Regions from separate parts of the Homo sapiens genome. Here region 1 is linked to region 2. Evidence: fine-mapped expression QTL. Tissue or cell type: thyroid. Region 2 holds a variant in brackets; the other region holds the start of a gene. All regions are shown on one strand. Distances are between the middles of the regions.

The links. PIP is the estimated chance that this variant, and not a neighbour inherited with it, causes the effect.
Region 1: FAM201A starts here. The variant in region 2 is fine-mapped to the expression of FAM201A in thyroid (GTEx, PIP 0.90).

Annotation. Positions count from the first base shown.
Region 1 is chr9:38,618,123-38,623,422 of GRCh38, forward strand. It overlaps FAM201A (family with sequence similarity 201 member A), which reads left to right and starts at 2,966. Exons shown (of 2, transcript NR_027294.1): 1 at 2,966-3,243; 2 at 3,710-5,162. It overlaps ANKRD18A (ankyrin repeat domain 18A), which reads right to left and starts at 2,474. Exons shown (of 16, transcript NM_147195.4): 1 at 1,958-2,474. The coding sequence starts at 2,163. RefSeq lists enhancers at 3,120-3,239, 3,892-4,101.
Region 2 is chr9:38,837,516-38,842,815 of GRCh38, forward strand. No RefSeq gene overlaps it. Among named protein-coding and RNA genes, the nearest start is that of FAM240B, 120 kb to the left of the region's middle. The variant C/CA (reference allele first, on the strand shown) is at 3,166.

The DNA.
Region 1 (5,300 bases), 220 kb before region 2:
AAAAATAGTGAGAAATTATTTTTATCTGTTCAAGAGTCATATTTCTCTTCCCAAAATTTATTCCATTAATAATAAATTTTTACTAGAAATTTTATAAATGCTCACTTCAGAAATCAAAGGTAAGAAAAAGGAACAAAAAACTTTAAAATACAAATGCTCAGAAGTTACAAATTTTATCCTATTTTGTGCATAGTATTGCCTAACACCAGACCATAGTATGTTTGTGTGTATGTGCAAGCAAACTGATTTGTTTTTCCTCACTGGCTGTAACAAAATGCATCTTCACATATCAACATACTTCTCCACCTATTGCCACCTTCAATGGCCACATACCATTCTATGGGTTCTTGTTAACATAAATGCTGGGGAAAAAAAGTGCATGTATCTCTATTTTCTGAAGGTATTTTAATACAATGGAATTGATGGGTAAAGGGCATATACATTTTTAAAATGTGGTAATTATCTCCAAATTATCCACTTGAAAAGTCATCAGCAACTTAAACTTCAAGCAGCAGTGTAAGTGCCACTGCTCTTCATTCTCACAAACACTGTGGATAGAACACAGTCTCACTCCTCTTTTAACTTATCTTATGAGAAACACTAAGGATTTTTTCCTATGTACATAAGTAACTTGTGAATCTGCAAAAAGTGCTTTGCTCACTTCTAGAGTTCTTTTCTTGTGGATTTGATTGGAAAGAATTCCCTGTAAAATAAAGATGTGCTTTTTATCTGTATATATATAACTGATATATATATATAACACATTATATTAGTAATATATACAATTTCTTATACATATAATCAGTAATATGTATTATATATAATAAAGAATAAATTCCCTGTAGGATGAAGATACACTTTTCATCTGAATATATATTTTTATATATTAGTAAAAATATATATAGGAAATATTTTTCGAGTGTGTTATCTTTTGTTAATTTTTTTCTGATACACAGGGGATTTTAATTTTTAGTTTGCTAAATCAACTTTCAGAATGCCTGCTTGCGAGGTCATTCTTACGAAGGCCTTTGTTAACATAAAATGTACCTGTATAAATAAGTCTTTGCGTTTTCTTCTGGTACTTTTTCTCATTTTGCATGTGTAAAAATTTCAGTCTGAATTCCATCAGGAACCCATTTTTGCGACATAAAGTTTCATTAGTTTTCTTCACACAGCAGGCATTTTATTAATAACTCATCTTTTCCTACTCATCTGAAACGTTACCATTATCCATCCCTATGTATATATCTTACATATATTTCAGTGTTTTTGGATTTCCTGTTCTGTTCCATTTATTTATCTGTGTTTTCAGCTGTTAGTAAATAATTAATTGTGGGAATTAATAGCACATTTTGATATCTAGAGGAGCAAGTCTTTTCACTCCATTATAAACATTTTTAAATGTCATCACAATGGTAAGATAGATAGCAAGTGTCATGCAAAAATGATAAAACCTTGATATCTTCATTCAGTTTATGTAAAACTGATAAACATGGAAACAGTTCATATTTTGAGAAAACTGAGTCTTCCCATTCAAGGAACCCACCTCGCGCTTCCCAGTGTCCCTCTAAGAAGCTCCAGTAAAGAACCTGTCTACCTAGGTGGATTCGGATGTAAAACCGACACAGGGTTTTATCTGAGAACTCTTCGCCTACTGAAAAAGGCTCATGGTATTTTTGACAGGGGAATGAGTTCTCATTAGGCACCTCCCTATCATGTATATGGCCCCATGTTTTAAACGTGGATATGCCTAACTTTGTGAGTTAAATCACTCAAATTTTCCACCAAGCGCGACGGACGGGGAATTGCCAGCGACGGAAAGCAGCTGAGGCTCCATTTGGCTCCGCTGCTCCGAGGGTGCCCGGCGCCCTCCAAGGTCCCCGCCCCAGGGGCTGCCGGGCTGCAGGGAAGCCGGGCCTGCGGCCCCCTCCCACCGCGGGCTGAGTCCCCGAGCTACCTGTCTTTTCTGTCGCGGGCGTCCAAGTCCCGGAACCTGCGCGTCAGGCAGCGCTCCACCTCCGCGGCGTCGCCCTTGATGGCAGCCCTGTGGATCTTCCGCAGTTCCCAGTCCCGAATGTCGTAACCCGGACCCGCATACTCTTGGTCCATGGAGCTCAGGAGCGCCTGGCCCAGGCGTCTCCCGAAGCTGAAGAGCTTCCTCATGGTGGCGACTTCTCAGACGCCCACCACCCGCTCCTGAGCCGCGGCGGCTCCTCGTGGCCTTTCCACCCCCACTCCGCCCCAAATCCGCGATCTCCCCCGCAACCCGCGATCCCCCCCGCAACCCGCGATCCACCCCCAAATCCAAGATCCACCCCCAAACCCGCAATGTAGCTCAGAATCCGCGATCCAGCCCGGTCCACCACAGCCTTCAGCAGCGACACTCGCAGACTCCGACCTCTCAGACCGAGTGAGCCCAGCTAAGCCGTTAGGCGCGCGCCTGAACCTCAGCGCTCCGAACTCTCAGACCGAGTGAGTCCCCGCGATGCCAGTTAGGCGCGCGCCTACAACTCAGCGCCAGCCGGGACTCCGGAAGCCGCTCCCAAGCCCTCGTGGCCGGCAGGGGGCACCTGCAGCACGGGCGCACGCGTCGCTGGCTTGCGGGTTCTCCTGGGCTCCCGCGGGACGTCCCGGAATCCCAGGAGTGCATCCCTTCCCGCCTGAGGGCCTGCCTGGCCCTGACTCCCGACCCGCTCCTCCTCCGAAGAGAGATCGGGGCCGCTGACAGGGGCCCTCCGCAGCCACCGGGGATGGGACTGGGGGGTCGGTTCCTGTCCCGGTGCAGCCGCCGCCGGGTAGACCGCCTGGCTTGGCCGCAGCCAGGGCGACATGTAGCCCCGGTTCTGCCAGGCTGGGAGCGCCAGCCATCTTGGGAGTTGCCAGGCAGCTGTCGCCAGCAGGTAGAGGGCGCCTGCAGCTTGGGCGCCCAGGTGGTGGAGCACGGCCTAGGCGGCCTCTGGATCGCGAGTGCACCTGGCCTGAGAGCCCGCCAGGCCCTGCCCCTGCTCGGCTCCTCGTCTGCTGAAGCTCGGGACCTCTAGCCAGTGGCCCTCTGCAGCCACGGGGAATGGGGCTGAGAGCCGGTTCCCGCTGCAGGGCAGACCACCTAGCTCAGCCGCAGCCACAGGGACATCTGGCCCCGGTTCTGAGATGTGGGGAGTGCTGGCGGGCTCGGGGGTTGCCTGGAGGCTGCTGCCTGCACACAGAAGGCGGATGCAGCTTGGGTGCCCAGGCGGGCTGGAGGTGCATGGCCTGGTCGGCCTCGGGATCGCCAGCGCGCCCAGCCTGAGGGCCCCCAGGCCGTGCCTCCCGCCCATTCCTCCACCGGAGGGGGATCGGGGTCGCTGGCATGGGCACTTGGCAGTCACTCCGGATGGGGTTGAGCAGGGGTTCTCAGTTTTCGCCCCTGTGCAGCCGCCGCCGGGCAGAATGCCTGGCTTGGCCGCAGCCACTGCTACACCTAGCGGGTCGGGCGGGCCGGGGGGTGAAAGCGCTGGGAGGCGGGTGCCTTCTCGCCCTGTGGCGCCTCTGGGCCCCACGGCTTGTCGGCCTCCGGCGCGCAGGGCTCCCCAGCATCCTGGGCGCCGGCCCGCTGCCTGCACAAAGTCAACTCAGACAGGATGAACTTCGGTTGCCTTGTCTGGCTGGGCTGCCAGGCGGGGCAGCTGACCTGCTGATGGGGTGACTTTCTTCATCTTCTTGCCCACAGGACAGCGGGCTGGGAAGCCAGGGGCCGCCGGGACCTGGGGCTGGAAACCACATCTGCCCACAGCCGCAGCCTCCTGCACCTGTCATCCTGGCGGCGCCCTGACGTCGGAGAAGCAGCAGGCGCGGAGCTCCTGCAGCGGGCACCGCTGCAGCAACCCGACCCGGCGCAGGCGGCAGTGGAAGGCGGCCTGCTAGCACGGCTCCCGCGGCCCCAGGACCAGGGGTGCGGCCAGCACCGCCCTCACTCCCCGCGTCTCGTGGATATTGCCCTCCCTGGAGGCGGCTGGACCTAAGCGAGGCTCGCAGCGATCGGCCCCGCGAAGACTCGCATGCAGGGCTCAGGATCCCGCATTCTGGCGCCGCGGCACCGCACCTTTCAGCAGCCCTGCTCCTCTTCTTGTTGGTAAACTTTTGTCACTCTGCCATGAAAAGCATCCAGGCGTCCTTGATTTCGACATTGCGTGCACGCTCAGCCGAGCTCATCAGACGGGCGGTTGTCCCCAGAGCCCGCGGGTAGCTTGTTCCCGGGCGGCGGCTCCTGCTGGATGCAGCTCCTTGTGGGCCTACCAGGCTTGGTGGAGCCACAGCAGACCTGTGGAGAGGAAGAGTAAGGCGGGCTCTGCAGGGCAGTGGGCCGGGACCATGAGAGAGGCGGGTCAGTCTGGGCTCCAAGCTCAGCCTCTCGGATTCCCCGGGACCCACGGCTTATAATGCGCTTAAATCCCACGCCTCGCCCGAGAGACAGCACGTCACCGTCACCGTCACCGCCTAGCGCCCCTGACCCGCTCCCACTCCGCTGCAGCGGAGGGTGTGTGAGGGAGAGGGACGCAGGGAGGGAAAAGCGTTGGGAGGGCAAACATCTTTTCATAAGCTTTTCCCCTTCTATATGCCATCTCTGATGGGAGCCTCTTTAGATCTTTCGTCCATTTACTAATTGGGTTGTTCGATTTCTTATTGTTGAGTTGTAAGTGGTTTTTAATGGTCTGGATGCCAGACAGGTGTTTTGCAAATATTTTCTCCGTCTGTGGCTTGTTTCTCCATTCTCTTATTTCCTTTCCCAGAGCAAAAGTTTTTAATTGTAACGACTTCATACCAATATCTTCTTTCATGGTAGAAATTTGTCTTTTATGTACTTTACTGTTGTATCTACAAAGTAATTGCCAAACCCAAAGTTACCTAAATATCCCTTTTGTTATTTTACAGAAGTTTTACAGCTTTTGGATTTAAATTTAGGTCTAAAAATTGAATTCATAAAAGTAGAGAGTATAATGATGCTTACCAGAGGCTGTGTTGCTGGGGAGAAAAATGGGAAGTTGTTCACAGATGCAAAGATTCAGTTAAACCGGAGAAATGCGTTTTGAAATCTATTGCACAGCAGGATGACTATAGTCAATAATAATGTACTGTATATTTAAATAACAAAAAGTAAATTTCAAATATCTAACCACAAAAAATAAAATTGAGGTGATGGGTATTTTTTATTTTATTTATTTATTTGTTTATTTATTTATTTTTTTGAGACAGAGTCTCGCTCTTTCGCCCAGGCCGGACTGCAGTGGCAGGGTCTCGGCTCACTGCAAGCTCCGCCTCCT
Region 2 (5,300 bases):
TGAGACATCCTCTGCCAAGGGGAGGAAAGGGACAGGGACAGATATGGATAATTGGGAAAGTTTGATAAATCTGTAATTTTCTGCCTCATAGGCATAAGATTCTTTTGGGGGTTTACTCACTACATGATACCTGTCACTAGGAAGTTTGTAGATTGCATCTCTGTTGAAAATCCTTTGTGTGTGTGTGTGTGTGTGTGTGTGTGTGTGCGCGCGTAGCTATATATGCAGAGAGCCACACGTCTTAGAATTTGGCCCCCCAGCCTCCTCTTCCCACCACAGAGCAACGTCTGTGGTGCCAATGAGCCCATCAGGCCATGCCTCTGCTTGGCACAACTGCCCTCCACGGGAGTCTGCCTCTTCCTTTTTTTTTTTTCTTATAGATATGTGTTCTTTTCAATAATTGAGATGAAATTGTGTAAACAGATTGGCGTTATGCATGTTTTTTCAGATGACATTATATAGTGAAAATATTCCCCATGTCATAAAGATTACTTGAAATATCATTTGCACAGCTCCAATATTTCATAACATGGATTCACCATTATTTATTTAATCCCTTACCTGTTCTTGAATGCTTGATTGGTTTTAACATTGCTCCATTTTCTTTGGATTTTTAAACAATGCCTTTTCCTGGGTGATGATAGCCATTGCAAAAGCTGGTTTCATAATTGTTGGATGTTTTTCATTCTTGGATCCTGGATATCAAATAAAATCTTTAGAGATAATATCTGAGCCTGCTATGGTTTACTGTCTTTTAAAACTTTACCCTTATTTGGGGATTAAATAATGTGTGTGTTCTATCACAGACACCTATTCTAAAATTGTCTATCAGTAAGATGGACTGCATTGCCTTTTCCTTTTCCATAGAGTATTGAATTTAATTGGGTTATAATTCCTGCTATCTAGTAGCTCACCAACAATGGAGCTGTCAGAGCTTACTCATATACTCCATGGGAAGTTTATGTGTCTGAGGCAAATGCTGGCAGGTGAAGCAGGCATTCCATGAAACCAGGCCTGGGTGGAAAGGAGGCACTCTTGTGTGCAGAGTCTGGTGCCGCTGGGCCCACACACCTGGGAGCACTCCCTGGCTGCCCACACCCTGTTCCTTTCAAGAATTTGGGTTGTGTTTTCTTCTTTCTTGACAATTAGTATAAGGGCAGTAGCTAAGAGTTTGGATTTATTTTTTTTTTGATGGAGTTTTGCTCTTGTTGCCCAGGCTGGATGGAGCATGATCTTGGCTCACTGCAACCTCCACCTCCTGGGTTCAAGCAATTCTCCTGCCTCAGCCTCCCGAGTAGCTGGGATAACAGGCATGTGCCACCACGCCTGGCTAATTTTGTATTTTTAGTGGAGACGAGGTTTCACTATGTTGGCCAGGATGGTCTCGAACTCCTGACTTCAGGTGATCCACCCACTTCGGCCTTCCAAAGTGCTCGGATTACAGGCATGAGCCACCATACCCGGCCAAAAGTTTGAATTTTGATTCAGTCATGACTTTGCCACTTAATCTGAGTCTCCAGGTAGGTCATGTCCCGCAATTTTCTCATCTGCAGGCTGGGAATAATGACAGGCTATATTCCAATAAGTTTTCATTGAAGGTTAAATAATATGACAGAGATCTGGCATATGTAAATCCTCAATAAGTGGCAGCCATTTTTGTTTTTATTGCTTTCGTTATTCATTGAGTTTCAGATACTGAAATTAACAATGCGTATTATCCACCTGTTCCTCTGCTGCTTGGATTCCAGACCAAATTTGCCACCTTTTTTGTAACTTCTAAGATTCACTTTGTACTCTTCTGTTTTTTTTTATTTACTCAATAAGTATTTATTGTGAATCTACTGTGTGCTAGTCACCAGTTTAATAATACTCTGTTCCCATCTCTTTGCCTAGTGCACATATATAAGGAATTCTATGAAACTATAACCATACTGACAGATTTCTTGTATAGTCCAGATGATGATCCCACCATTTTAAAAGTACACTTCAAAATGCTCAAAGAGTAAGCTTCAAATGTCTCACCACAGAAAATAAGTGACATTATGAATACGTAAATTGACTTGATTTAACATTCCACATCATGTACATATATCAGAACTTCACTTTGTACCCAATACATGTGTACAATGATGATTTTTCAATTAAAAATAATATTAATGAAAAAGTTGCATGACAGTGGAAAAAATGTTTTGAAGGATAGAGGTTTGCTTATGATCACATGATTCTGAGCAAATTAATCTGAAGCTTTTTTCACAATATAACTTTATTATGTAGAGTTGTTATAGAAATTAAACAACAATATAGAAATCAAAACAATTTTGTTAGTTCCTTTCTTTTACTCCTCAGATCAGTATGGTTAGGGTGTTTGCAAACTCTGTGTACATTGTGCTGTGGGTTAGCCACTTTAGAAACAGAGGGAGACAGTGAGGCCGGTGGAGCTTGGGAGAGCTAAATAGAGTCTGAGATGGAGAGATTGCATACACCAGTGTGTATTTGAAATAAAATGTAGTGAAAATTAATAAGCTTGAAATTACCTAGCTTAGGCTATTAAACAAAACATTTTAATAAAGAAAACTAAGTCATTTAGGTTTCCAGAGAATAGTAACTGTCACTAATAAAATTAATGTTTATTTAGGAAAAACTTGTATCAGTTTCTGCAATTGAATCAATCAACATCCAATGAGGAAACAGAAACCACATAGTAATTTGGAAAGGAAAATCAATATAAATAATATTAAATGTTATATGGGGTTAACAATAAAGGGGTACCTGAAGAAAATATTTGGGCTCTGGGAGAGTCCCCAAGGAAGAAACAAACTTGAAAAGGGGCCCCACTCCCCAAGACTGGGCCTCTGACTCATTGGAGGTGTGGTTGCAGCTCACCAGCTTGAGAGGAGGTTCTCTGGGTTGCCCCGGGCAGAAGCTGGTAGGAGGTGACATGGGGCTGGAACAGGCCAGCTGGGAGCTCCTTCTGGGGTGCAGGTGGGCACACAAGCACCACGTAAGGAGGGCACGCAGGAGCACCCTCCAGGGAACAGGCAGGCTGAGGATGAGGAAGGATGAATGTCAAAGCAAGGCAGCTTTGGGTCTAACTCTGAGCTCAGAACTGTGGCCAAGGTTTGTTTTCTGGGTCAGTTCTGGATGAATAGCTTCATGGGATCCTGC[C/CA]ACATATCAAATTTAGCTACCCAACCATCTGAAATGAAACAGTAGAGGAAAAACAGGATAATGAAAATTCTTATTTAGCAATGTATAAAGAACATGCAACTTAGCTCAGCATGTGTATCATGCTTTATTTGGGCCAGGGATCGCTAAGAATATTCATTTTTAAACTTATTTTTTTGGCAGAGAAATGTTTCTGGCTCAGCAAATATAATTACAATAAGGTTTGAATTCCTGTTTGCCAGGATTGGAAAACGATACAATTTCTAAAGCTCTAATCAGTTGTCTATCCATTTTATCTCGGGAACAGAGCTCTATTAGCTATTCTATTAGTTAGCTATTCTCACAAATATGCTGCATAACAAACCACCCCCAAACTCAATGGCTTATGGCAACAACCATTGATTTCTTGCTCGCACATCAGCAGGTTGCTTGGAGTTAAGCTGATTAAGTCAGGGCTGGGCTTGGCTCCAGGCTGCAGGTGGGTTTCAAGTCAGCTTCATGTAGCTGTTCCCGTGCCGTGCTGCTTAGCATGTGCTCTCCTTGGGGCAATGGCAGAAGCACAAGGGACAGGCATTTCATGAGCATTTCAAGCCCCTGCTTGGGTGAAGTCTGTTAATGCTCATTGGCCAACATCAATGGGGAGAGAAGTATGCTTCTGTCATGGAGGTTAAAGAGAATAGAGTGAATCTTTGATAGACCATAATCCAATCTCCCACAGCAAGGAGAGTATACAAACCACATCTTAAGTCTGGATCGGCCTGGGATTTTTCTGCCCCTTGACAGCAGCAGCTGCCTTGCCCTTTGCCCAAGGGAGTCCACTCTGCTGCTTCCTGAGTGTCCTCATTCCTGGTCACTGCACGATTGTCCTTAAATGGTGTTAGCTATTTGGACATGGGCTAAATGCTACTCCCCATGCATGTTTGCTCACCTGTTCCATTTCTGTGTCTAGGCAGGTTGGCTGAGCCTGTGGCTTCTCTCTAGAGCTTCCACTGCATCTTACTGAATTTCTTAGGAAGTAGTTGACACAATTGACTACACTGATTTCTGCAAGGTCCCCTAAATCATTTCAGAATGCATGGGGATTGACTCCCAAGAGACAAAAGGGAAGAACTTAATGCACAGTGCACTAAGCAGCAAAGTAGTTTTGCCTCCTTGAGCCTATTCAAGGTTCTCTGTCACACCTTGAATCAGCCAAGATCAAATTTTAGTGTTCGTCACTTGTAAATGTAGTAGACACAAAACCTGGAATTGTGTCTTTATTTGGAAATAGGGTCTTTGTAGATGTAATGAAGTTAAGATGAAGTCATATCGGATTAGGGTGGGCCCCAAATGAAATGATTGGTGTCCTTACAAGGAGAGGGAGATTTGGAGACACAGAAAGACAGAGAGACACGGAGAGGGTGGAAGGCCATGCAGTGATGAAGGGAGAGATTGGAGTGATGCAGCTGCGAGCCGAGAATTGCTGGCAACCACCTGAAGCCAGGAAGACGCAGGAAGGATTCCCCGCTGGAGCCTTCAGGGGGAGCATGGCCCTGCTGTCACCTGACTTCAGGCTTTGATCTTCTGGAATTGTGAGCCAATAAATTTCTGTTTACATGCCACCTAGTTTATGATAATATGTTGTGGCAGCTCTGGGAAAACATAACACAACACCTCCGATGTCTATTTTAGTCAGAATTCTTTGGTTGCAATTAGCAAATACTAAGAAAAAAAGTGGATTGATCTTAGGTCATTTGAAACTGGCTTTAATGTGTGAAGTTAGGAACATGGGTGCTGTTGGGACTCTCTTATCTTTCATTTATGATTCTCTCTTGTGCTGGCTTTATTCTCCCAGGTCAGCTTCTTCATAAGGCTGATGCCATAGCAGCTGAAGTGTTGAGGCTTTTTGATGAGAGAAAAAAGGCTTTTCTGTGTAATTCTAAGATTAAGTCCCAGGTAAGGGTTCTAGTTCGCCCCTGCTCATCTGGATGGACCACTGAGGTTTGGTGGACAGGCTGTATTGGTGGTCCACCTAGCATCAGTCCTCTGACTGTTGAACAGTGACAAAGGCCATGAAAGAGAAAGGGACAAGGAGTGTAACAAGAACAAGTGCTAACAGGATCATGGAAACTGTTCGGCCACTGCTGTTCATCCACCAC